Regions from separate parts of the Homo sapiens genome. Here region 2 is linked to region 1. The links come from fine-mapping of genetic effects on gene expression. A gene starts in region 1. The other region holds a variant in brackets. All regions are shown on one strand. Distances are from middle to middle. Region 1 holds the start of ZC3H7A (zinc finger CCCH-type containing 7A). Region 2 overlaps ZC3H7A (zinc finger CCCH-type containing 7A).

Evidence for each region. PIP is the estimated chance that this variant, and not a neighbour inherited with it, causes the effect. A credible set is the group of variants that fine-mapping cannot tell apart.
Region 2: its variant is the best candidate, but not a certain one, in a credible set for the expression of ZC3H7A in whole blood (TOPMed, PIP 0.68).

The regions. Positions count from the first base shown.
Region 1 is chr16:11,794,260-11,799,635 of GRCh38, reverse strand. It overlaps ZC3H7A (zinc finger CCCH-type containing 7A), which reads left to right and starts at 2,378. Exons shown (of 23, transcript NM_014153.4): 1 at 2,378-2,512. RefSeq lists silencers at 2,095-2,504, 2,987-3,146 and an enhancer at 2,142-2,679.
Region 2 is chr16:11,752,814-11,758,189 of GRCh38, reverse strand. It overlaps ZC3H7A (zinc finger CCCH-type containing 7A), which reads left to right. Exons shown (of 23, transcript NM_014153.4): 21 at 1,820-1,953; 22 at 5,358-5,376. Among named protein-coding and RNA genes, the nearest start is that of TXNDC11-AS1, 12 kb to the right of the region's middle. The variant A/C (reference allele first, on the strand shown) is at 3,266.

The DNA of each region.
Region 1 (5,376 bases):
CAGTGAAGGCCTCTCCAAGAGAGGCTACTGTAGTTGAGGCCTGAATGATGAGCAGCCTCTGGTCACGAGAATAATCCACCCCTTTCTTTTTCTTATTTTGTTTTGAGACGGAGTCTCGCTGTGTCGCCCAGGCTGGAGTACAGTGGCGCGATCTCGACTCACCACAACCTCCACCTCCCAGGTTCAAGTGATTCTCCTGCCTCAGCCTCCCCAGGAGCTGGGATTACAGGCGCCTGCCTCCATGCTTGGCTAATTTTTGTATTTTTAGTAGAGACAGGGTTTCACCATGTTGGCCAAGCTGGTCTTGAACTTCTGACCTCGTGATCCCCCTGCCTCGGCCTCCCAAAGTGCTGGGATTATAGATGTGAGCCAGTGCGCCCGGTATAATCCACCCCTTTCTTAGAGGAGCTTCCCTAAAACCACAGCCCATCAGCTCTCCAATATCTGTTGCAGCACTTACCTGGTGTTACGGACTGAAACGCTCCCCGCTCCGCACATACCCACCCCGGAGTCCGTATGTTGAAGCTCTAACCCTAATATGGCTATTAGGCATATTAGGCAGTCATTAGGGTTAAATGAAGTCATAGGACCCTTATACTTTTTTTTTTTTTTTTGGTACAGACTCTCTCTCTCGCCCAATATGGAGTGCAATGGCGCGATCTCAGCTCACTGCAACCTCTGCCTCCCAGGTTCAAGCGATTCTCCTGCCTCAGCCTCCCGAGTAGCTGGGATTACATGTGCACGTCGCCATGCCCGGCTAATTTTTTGTATTTTAGTAAAGACGGGGTCTCATTGTGTTGCCCAGGCTGGTCTCCAACTCCTGAGCTCAGGCAATCCATCTGCCTCGGCTTCCCAAAGTGCTAGAATTACAGGCGTGAGCCACTGCGCCTGGCCTAATACGACTATTTGAATACGGCCTTTTAGGTAGTCACTGGGGTTAAATGAAGTCATAGGGTGGGGCCCTAATCTAGTAAAATTGTTGTTCTTGTAAGAAAAAGGAAGACACACCAGGGATTCCTGCTCACAGAGAAAAGGTCATAGGAGGACACAGTGAGAAGGCAGCTGTTTGCAAGCCAGGGAGAGAGGCCTCACCAGAAACCAGCCCTGCCGGCACCCAGACCTTAGATTTGCAGCCTCTAAAACTGTGAGAAAATAAATTCCTGTTGTCTAAGCTGCCTGGTCTGGGGTATTTTGTCATGGCAGCCTGAGCTAATACTCTGGTTTGTAAATCTACGTCACCCAGACCCCTGGAAGAGCTACTGTAGCTAGAGTCCCCACTTCCCCTCTTGTCTCTCCTACAGCCCAATCTCTGCATAGTAGCAGGAGAGAACTTTCTAAAATATAAATGAGACCTCGGAACTCCCAATTCAGACTCAATGAATGACCCCCTTCCACACAAAACTCCAAATTAAACATGGCGGCCCCCCTGTGTCACAGATCTTTCTCCCCTCTGGCACACATCAGCTATGCAGGCCTTTCCTGTTATCCAGACACCGAACTCCAGCTTCAGGGCTTTTGCACTCATTTCCCCTCTGCCTGCGGCACACTTCCCCGAACACGGTTGCATGGCTGTCACCTCCTCAGAGGCTTTCCCAAAAGCTCCTGTCACATCCTCCTGCTTGAATTTCTTTGGTCTTCACCGACCAAAATGGTCTTCTTTGGGCTCTTGTGGGTCCTGATCTCCGCCCTCCATCCCATGGGGCAGGGACCCTGCCTCGCCCACTGCTGAGCTGAGCATTTTACAAGAAGCCGTGCCCGCAGCGGGGCACCTGGCCGTAAAATGCAGATGGACGAGGCGGCATTTGGGCTGGGCCCTGAAGGACAGGGATCCAGGCCTTCCAAGAGCCGGCAGATGGAACTGGAGGGAGGCTGTCTTTGGATCCCCGGCTGCCGTGGGGCTCCGCGCCTCCGTTCCTCATATGTAGGAATGAAGACAATCACGGTTGTTCTGAGGATGCAGGGTTACTCTTCGCAGAGCAGGGCGCCCCGGTTGAGGGCTCGTCAAGCTAAGCAGGCTCCAGGGTGGGCTTCCCGATGCCGACTCTAGCTCCTCTCCCCGCTGGACGCTGTTCTACCTCCTAGCGCTTCTGCTCAGGCCGCGGCCCAGGCGAGGCCCCAGAAAACCCCGGTGCTGGTTAATCAGTCTTGAGTCCGAGCGCGTCCAGTGCGCAACGTGGCCTTCCCATTGGCTCACCCAGTGGGCCGCGCGTCGACGCCGGGGCTCCGGATTGAACGGCGCGCCCAGGTCCCTGCCCCCAGTCAGACGTGGCGCCACCGCCCCCAGCCCGTAGCTCCGGCGCAGCCAATGGCGGCGTCTCCCGGGCGGCAAGCGCGGCCTCCCGCCGCTAGAGGGCGCCGCCGCGGGCGCAACCGAGCCGCTGCCGCCGCCGCTAACCGAGGGAGAGCTGCGAGCGAGCACCCAGGCCCCGCCGCCGCCGCCGCCACCGCTGCCCGCCTGCCGCCGCCCGCCTCCGCCTGCCTTCTGCCGCCGGCCGGCGCGTCGTCCCCACAGGTAGGGGTAGGGGGACGCCGCCGGGCATGAAGGAAACGCGCGCGCCCGCGCCCCCGCCCCCCCCGCGCGCGCCGCCGCCTCGTGCTCGCGCGCGGCCGTTAACGGACGGCGGGCGGGGCGGGGGAGGGGCGGCGGGGTCCGGGGCCCGCGGACCCGAGAGGACCCTGAGAGGAGCCGGGCCGGGGCCTGTGCGCGCGGAGGGACGGGTGGGCGCGCCGTCCCCTTCCCCCACCGAGAATAACGTGACCCACTTCTGCCTGCCATTCCCTCGGCAAAATGTCTCCTTTTTGGTGATTTCACTAAAAAAAAATTTTTTTTTTGGTTATTTCTGTCTGCTCTGGTGATCGCGGGGATCCCGATTCAGCGTCTTGGGCTTGGGGGCGGGAAGGATGCCGGCGGAGAGCTTGGCGCATTAATTTGGGGCTCATCCGTCTTTTTTACCCCCCTTTCTGATTTTTTTATTTTTTCGCGCGGGGTGCAGCCCTGGGCCGGGCGGGGAGAGGCCTTGGGGTCCGCGGAGGCGGGGGCGCCGCCCGGGAGGACCGGGACCGGGACCTGTCAGTTCCCATTAGCGGGGCTTCCGGTCAGGCCTGGGCAGCAAAGGGGTGGGGCCGCCTGAGGCCCGGCCGGGGCCTCCGAGGTCGAGCCTGAGTCGGGACTGGGTGGATTTGCCAGGAGTTGGGTATTTTCCTGTCCCCACCTGTCTAGGGATGAAAAGGAGTTGCCCGTGTTCGGTATTGAACCACGAAGGACCTTGCCATGCCCAGTACGGTGGCCACTGACCCCCCGCCGTTTGGGACGATGGAGCCCACGAAATGGGGCCAGTTTCAGTTGCGGTCCCAGCTGTGAAACGTACATCTGATTTTAAAAACTTCGGATGAGAAAGAAAGTAAAAGATGTCATTGGTAATCTTTTATACTTAAATGCATGTTGAGATGGTCATGTTTGGGACAAATTGGATTAACGAAAATAGATCATTAAAATTAATCTTGGCAGGATGCAGTGGCTCATGCCTGTCATCCCAAAACTTTGGGAGGCTGAGGCAGGAGGATCGTTTGAGTGCAGGAGTTCAAGACCAGCCTCAGCAACATAGTGAGACCCCTGTCTCTACAAAAAATACAAAAAATTAACTGGGCGTGGTGGCGCACGCCGGTAGTCAGCTACTCGGGAAGCTGAGGTGGGAGAATCTGCTACTCGGAAGGCTGGGGTGGGAGAATCCCTTGAGCCCAGGAGATTGAGGCTTCGGTGAGCTGAGATTGTGCCTTTGTGCTCCAGCCTGGGACACTGTCTCAAAACAAACAAATAAAAAAACAAAAGTTAATCTCACTGCTTTTCTTTTTCTCTTTTTTTAGTGTGGCTATTTGGAAATTTAAAATGACATATACGGGCCGGGCGGGGTGGCTCAACGTCTGTAATCCCAGCACTTTGGGAGGCCGAGGTGTGTGGATCACCTGAGGTCAGGAATTCCGAGACCAGCCTGGCCAACATGGAGAAACCCCGTCTCTAGTAAAAATACAAAAATCAGCCAGGCGTGGTGGCAGGCGCCTGTAATCCCAGCTACTGGGGAGGCTGAGGCAGGAGAATCGTTTGAACCGGGAGGCAGAGGTTGCAGTGAGCCGAGATTGTGCCACTGCACTCCTCCCTGGGCAACAGAGCGAGACTCCCTCTCCACATACATGCGTACATACATACATACATACAATGACACGTATGGCTTATTTTGTGTAATATATTTTGTACAATATTTCGACTGGACAGCGCGCAGCTGGGGCATCTGAATGGGTGGTGGCCCTGAGAAGACATGTCTATCTGCTTATCTTTCCTGCTTCTCTGATGGCATGTGGCCTCCTTCCCTTAAGCTCTCAAAGAATCCACTGCCTCTTCCTTCTCATACTGAGCCAAACTGTTGAACTGAATTGCACAATGGGTCTTGTCCTAATTTGCAGAATAATTCAAGTTAATGGACAGTATTTTCCCTGTTGAAAAATTTTCCCTATCTGCTGTATGCTGGAGGCTACAAATAGTTGTATGAGGTTTGTCTCAGGATGAGATCATGAGTTGTTGAGGCTCAATATTATCAATATTTGTGCGTGTGTGTTTGTGTGTGTGTGTTTATTCTACAAAGAGCCCGTTGATTTTCTGCCATCCAAACGAAGTGGAGAATTCCTGCCTTTCTTCATGTTACTGTGACTTTTCGTTGGGGGTTTTACACAGACCTACACCCTCTTTCCTTCCCATTCCCCAGATTCTGTCAGTTTTTGCAAATAAGAATGGTGGCTTGTCAGCCACATTGTTCCACAATTCTTAGTTTTGACTGATTTTAAAACCTGCCAGTTGGGGTGGGTTAAATTGTCATTGTAAGTGGAAGAGAATCAATTATAGAAACTCTCAACTCCAGGGATGGTGAGAGTGACTGTTGGAAAGTTTTGAGCATTTCAGTAAAGGAAGAAAGAAACAAAAGACGTCTGTATCCTGTTGCCACAGATACCCTAGAAAGGGCTTTCTAGAGACAGTATGATGTGAGCAAACTTTTGTCTTCTGGATAACGTCTGGAAGTGTTCTGTTTTGTTTTGTTTTTTTTCTAGTGAAAATATTTTTCTCCAGAATCCTTATGAAAATTACTTAAAGTGTGAGGTGTTGGCAAATCAAGAAGAAATTTTAGATAATTTTTAAGGAGGAGAGAAGTATTAAAGTATTAATCCAGAAGTTTAAAAATTACTGCTAGTGATAACGTTTTAATTTACATGTACACAAAAGGCATATTAAATGAGGTGATTTTCGTTTATGTAAAGCAACGAGGTTACTTTTTCACAAATAGAAAGCGGGAAGCTTTATGTTTTCTGAAAAGGCCTGAATTTGGAGCA
Region 2 (5,376 bases), 41 kb after region 1:
GCATGCATCCTTACATGTAATAGATGTATTCCTAAAAAATGGCCTGGGGAAGTTCAGTACTCCCTTGACTGTTTAAATCAGATCATCTGCTCGTATTGGAAATAGTTTGCCCTCTGAATTAACCAGGTTAGAATTGGCAGTTTCTTCAGGGAGGCATTACTAATCAAACAGGCTCAGAATCAGAGGTCCAAGGAAAGAATGTTTATTTTGGTCAAATTCCAAGTTTATTGTGGGAGCCTTTGAGAGGAGCCGCAGACAGCCTTTCACTTTTGACCATAAAATGTTTTACTACAAGGATCATTATTCTTTAATCTTAAGTAAACTGATGAAAGGTATACTGACTGCAGTCTCTGGATTATAAGAACCAACCAGATTTGACTGTTGCCTGCCATGTTTCAACCACATAGATCGTCAGTGGTGTGTGGACGGGATTCCCTCTAGCTGTCTTGCTGGGAGTGAGGCTATGTAGTCCGGCCTGACTGAAGATGCCCTTGCGCACCAGGCTTTTGCAATGACTCCTGCCACCACTGGTCTTAAGGAAGAAGCATTTCTAGTTTATCTCTAATCTTTGCCTGATGATACATTGTTAGAAACCATTAGGCAGACAACAAAGCCAAGTTTTAACCAGGTCCTCATTACCAGAGTTTTTAGCACAGTGGTTCTCAACTGGGAACAAATTTTTTTTTTTTTTTTTTTTTTTTTTTTTGAGACAGAGTCTCGCTTTGTCACCCAGGCTGGAGTGCAGTGGCGTGATCTCGGGTCACTGCAAGCTCCGCCTCCCGGGTTCACACCATTCTCCTGCCTCAGCTTCCCGAGTAGCTGGGACTACAGGCGCCTGCCACCACACCCGGCTAATTTTTTGTATTTTTAGTAGAGCCGGGGTTTCACCGTGTTAGCCAGGATGGTCTCGATCTCCTGACCTTGTGATCCACCCGCCTCAGCCTCCCAAAGTGCTGGGATTACAGGCGTGAGCCACCGTGCCCGGCTGGGAACAAATTTTGCCACTCCCCTTCCCTGTGGACATTTGGCAATGTCTGGAGATATTTTCATTGTCATGACTGGCAGAAGTTGCTCAGGCATCTAGTGGGCAGAGGCCAGGGATGCTACTCACCATCCTGTAATGCACAGGGCATACCCCCAGCAAAGAATTCTCTAGCCAGAATGTCAACCACATGGAGGCTGAGAAACCTCAGCTTTAGCACTTGGCAATAATGCAGAATACACCTGTTCTTACCATAGGAAGCAACTGGCAGCCACTGCCCAGGACTTGGTCATGGTTGTCTTGTCAGTTGCAGCCCAGCATATCCGCCCTCTGGGACTGTGGCTTGACTGATGGACTCCCATCAGGGTCAGAATCTTGGTCCAGTAGTAGTATGTTTCTCATCTTTCTCAGTAAGCAGTGAGGAGTGTATCAGCTCCAAGTCCCCCAAGCCACGTAAGTAGCCTTGTGTGGTTCTAGCTCTGACACTGAGTGTGGAACGTAGGGCGACAGAGGCAGTGGTGAGGCTTTTGTGACAATACTGTTTATAATGGTTTCTGAGTTTTAAACATCCCCAAAGTGTCGTGCAAATGCAGGGAGGGGTTAATTAATCCTGAGAACTAATATTTGCCATCTAACAGTCCTGAAAGTAGTTCTTATGCGTGAGAGTTTACCTGCTGCTTGAACTGGGTGATCTCTCCATGTCTAATATAATAGTCTCCTTCAGCCCCCTTGAGTTTCTTTTGAACTGTATGCTGACTGCTACAAAATATGCACATAGTTGCATGTATTTAAATGGAGTTTAGTTGCTGCTGCTGAAAGTAATTCATTTTTCTTTAGTACAAGATATGGAGCAATTTTACGAACTATGGCTCAAGAGTCAAAAAAATGAAAAAAGTGAAGACATAGCCAGTCAGTCAAACAAGGAAAATGGAAAACAAATTCACATGCCAACAGATTATGCTGAAGTTACAGTGAGTACCGTGCGTCATTTACCCTCTCTTTGCCGAGCCATTGATGGAGCCTTTCTTTTCCCTTTTCTTTTTTTTGAGATGGAGTCTCGTTGTGTCACCAGGCTGGAGTGCAGTGGTGTGATTTCAGCTCACTGCAACCTCCGCCTCCCTGGTTCAAGCAATTCTCTTGCCTCAGCCTCCCAAGTAGCTGGGATTATAGGCTCGCGCCACCACGCCCAGCTAATTTTTGTATTTTTAGTAGAGATGGAGTTTCACCATGTTGGCCAGGATGGTCTCGAACTCCTGACCTCGTGATTTGCCTGCCTCGGCCTCCCAAAGTGCTGGGATTACAAGCGTGAGCCACCATGCCCGGCCTTTCTTTTCTTTCCCATCTTCTCCAAAACCCGGCTCCGTCACTCACTGCCTGCCCTTCTCTGTTCTGTGTCTTCATCTTCTCTCTCTAGTGGTTTCCTGCCACTAGCTTAAGTCTCCTCATGTGAAAAAATCCTTTCTTCAATCCTTCTGACTTTGGAGCCAGAGAATCATAAGTCCAAGTCCTGGTTTCTCTCCTTACTTGCCTGGCACCCTGGGTAGATTATTTATGTCTCCGAGTGGGGTTGTCCTGATGGATTAGTGAAGTATGAGGAGTCTGTGACTCTTCCCTAGTGGGAGGCCCCAGCAGGTGGCTCAGGAATGTGGGCTGTCTACCCCGCTGGACCTTACATTCCCCGCTTACGCCTGCAGTCTGGCCTCTCCCTCTATGGTTCTTGGGGACATTAAGTTACCAGTGGTCTGTTAACTGTTTTGGTTTTCTTTTAAAAATTTCAAAAAAGTGAAGAGGATACTATAACAAATATCTTGAGCCCACCATCGCAAGTTAACTGATGTTAACAATTTGTTGTAGTTCCTATTATAAAATAAATAAATGCCACAGATAAAGTTAGAACCCCATATGTTCCCCTCCCCAGGGGAACAGATCCAGTGTGTATTTTTCCAGGCCATGTTTACCTAAGGATGACACATTTATTCTATTTTTTTTTTTTTTTTTGAGATGGAGTCTTACTCTGTTGCCCAGGCTGGAGTGCAATGCGGTAGTCTTGGCTCACTGCAACCTCCGCCTCTCGGGTTCAAGCGATTCTCCTGCCTCAGCCTTCTAAATAGCAAGGGATTATAGGCGCCTGCCACCACGCCCGGCTAATTTTTTGTGTTTTTGGTAGAGACGGGGTTTCACCATGTTGGCCAGGCTGGTCTCAAACTCCTGAGCTTGTGATCCACCCGCCTCAGCCTTCCAAAACCGTGGGATTACAGGCATGAGCCACTGTGCCCGGCCAAC[A/C]CATGTATTCTTTTTTTTTTTTTTTTTTTTTGTGAGACGGAGTCTCGCTCTGTCGCCCAGGCACGAGTGCAATGATGTGATCTTGGCTCACTGCAACCTCTGCCTCTCAGGTTCAAGCAATTCTCCTGCCTCAGCCTCCCGTGTAGCTGGGACTACAGGTGCCGGCCACCACGCACGGCTAATTTTTGTATTTTTAGTAGAGACGGAGTTTCACCATGTTGGTCAGGCTGGTCTCAAACTCCTGACCTTGCGTGATCTGCCCGCCTCAGCCTCCCAAAGTGCTGGGATTACAGGCGTGAGCCACCGTGCCCAGCTACATTTATTCTTAAATAATCTATAGTTCCACTTGATGTGGTTTTAAAAGTTTACATAAGCATATGTGTTACTGCCCTTATTTCTTGTTTTTTGGCACCTCCGTCTCTCTGTTGATTCAGTCAGATCCAGTTTCATTGCCCATTGCAGGCCTTGTGTGTGGCCTGGCCTTGCCCAGCGTCTCTCTGCTTGTGACATGCCCTGTGAATGTTTACCTTTGTCACATTGATTCCCTTGCTACCTTTACTTAAGTGCTCCTTGGTGTTTATTTTATTATATATATATATATATTTTTTTTTCTTCCTTTTTTTTTTTTTTTTTGAGACAGGGTCTCACTCTGTCATCCAGGCCGGAGTACAGAGGCACAGTTATGGCTCACTGCAGCCACTACCTCCTGGGCTCAGGTGATCCTCCGACCTCAGCCTCCTCAGTAGCTAGGACTGCAGGTGCTCTCCACCATGCCTGGCTAATTTTTGTATTTTTTGTAGAGATGGGGATTTTGCCATGTTGCCCACGCTAGTCTGAAACTCCTGTGCTCAAGCACTCCTCCTGCCTCGGCCTCCCAAAGTGCTGTGATTATAGGCATGAGCCACTGCGCCCAACTGCTCCTTGGTGTTTCTAGAGCAGGTCACCTCGACTTGTTGGATCATAAGGCTTACCTGGGGCCGGGCATGGTGGTTCATGCCTGTAATCCCAGCAATTTGGGAGGCCGAGGCAGGTGGATCACCTAAGGTTAGGAGTTCAAGACCAGCTTGGCCAACTTGGTGAAACCCCTTCTCCACTAAAAATGCAAACAATTAGCTGGGCATGGTGGCAGGTGCCTGTAATCCCAGCTACTTAGGAGGCTGAGGCAGGAGAATTGCTTAAACCTGGGAGATGGAGGTTGCAGTGAGCCAAGATCGCATCACTCCACTCCAGCCTAAGCAACAGAGTGAGACTCTGTCTCAAAAATAAACAAATAAATAAATAAGGCCTACCTGGGGTGTTTCATAATAAGGAGTCTTAGAGCTGGGCGTGGTGGCTTGCACCTGTAATCCTAGCCACTCAGGAGGCTGAAGTGGGAGGACCACTTGAGCCCAGGAGTTCAAGGCTGCAGTGAGCTATGATCGCACCACCATACTCTAGCCTGGATGACAGCGAGACCATGTCTCTAAAAAAATAAAGTAATAAAAAGTCTTCATTTATACCCCACAATGAATGAGTTCAAATCTGTTTTTACCCAGTGTTGCAGATAATTATTGCCCAGGACATTTGGGAAATACTATCCAACACTTATAGTTTGCATCTGTTGTAGCACTTAAATCCCCTCATAACACTTCCTTTTGTATAGGTCTGTTCCCCACAGGGGCAGTGTCTTTAAATTCCTGATGCCACAGCAGTGGCTCAGTTCACGTACACTGAAGGGAGCTGCTGCTCGTCCTTTTGGAGTTGGCATGTCCTGGTCTTTCTCATCCTTTCTGCTTTTCCTCATGGTGTTAGTTCTTCCCTGAATCCTTGTTTGTACCTGCCTCTTGTTCTCCCAGCAAACATCCTTGTTTGCATACCAGCTCCTATTGCCTCTTTACCGGAGATTTCCTGGACAGCTGGCAGCATTTGTCACCCTTCTTCTCTGTGTCCTGAGTGCTGGCTTGCTTCCCCATGCTGTGGTCCTTTCCTTGTCCCTATTTCTAACCTGAGTTTTATGTCTTGCCTGGCTCTCCCACCAGCCTGGGCTCCCTGGAATTGAGTCTGGATCTCACATCAGGTGACTAATGGGACATGTGTCTTTGCTGCACATTAGGTGGACTTTCACTGCTGGA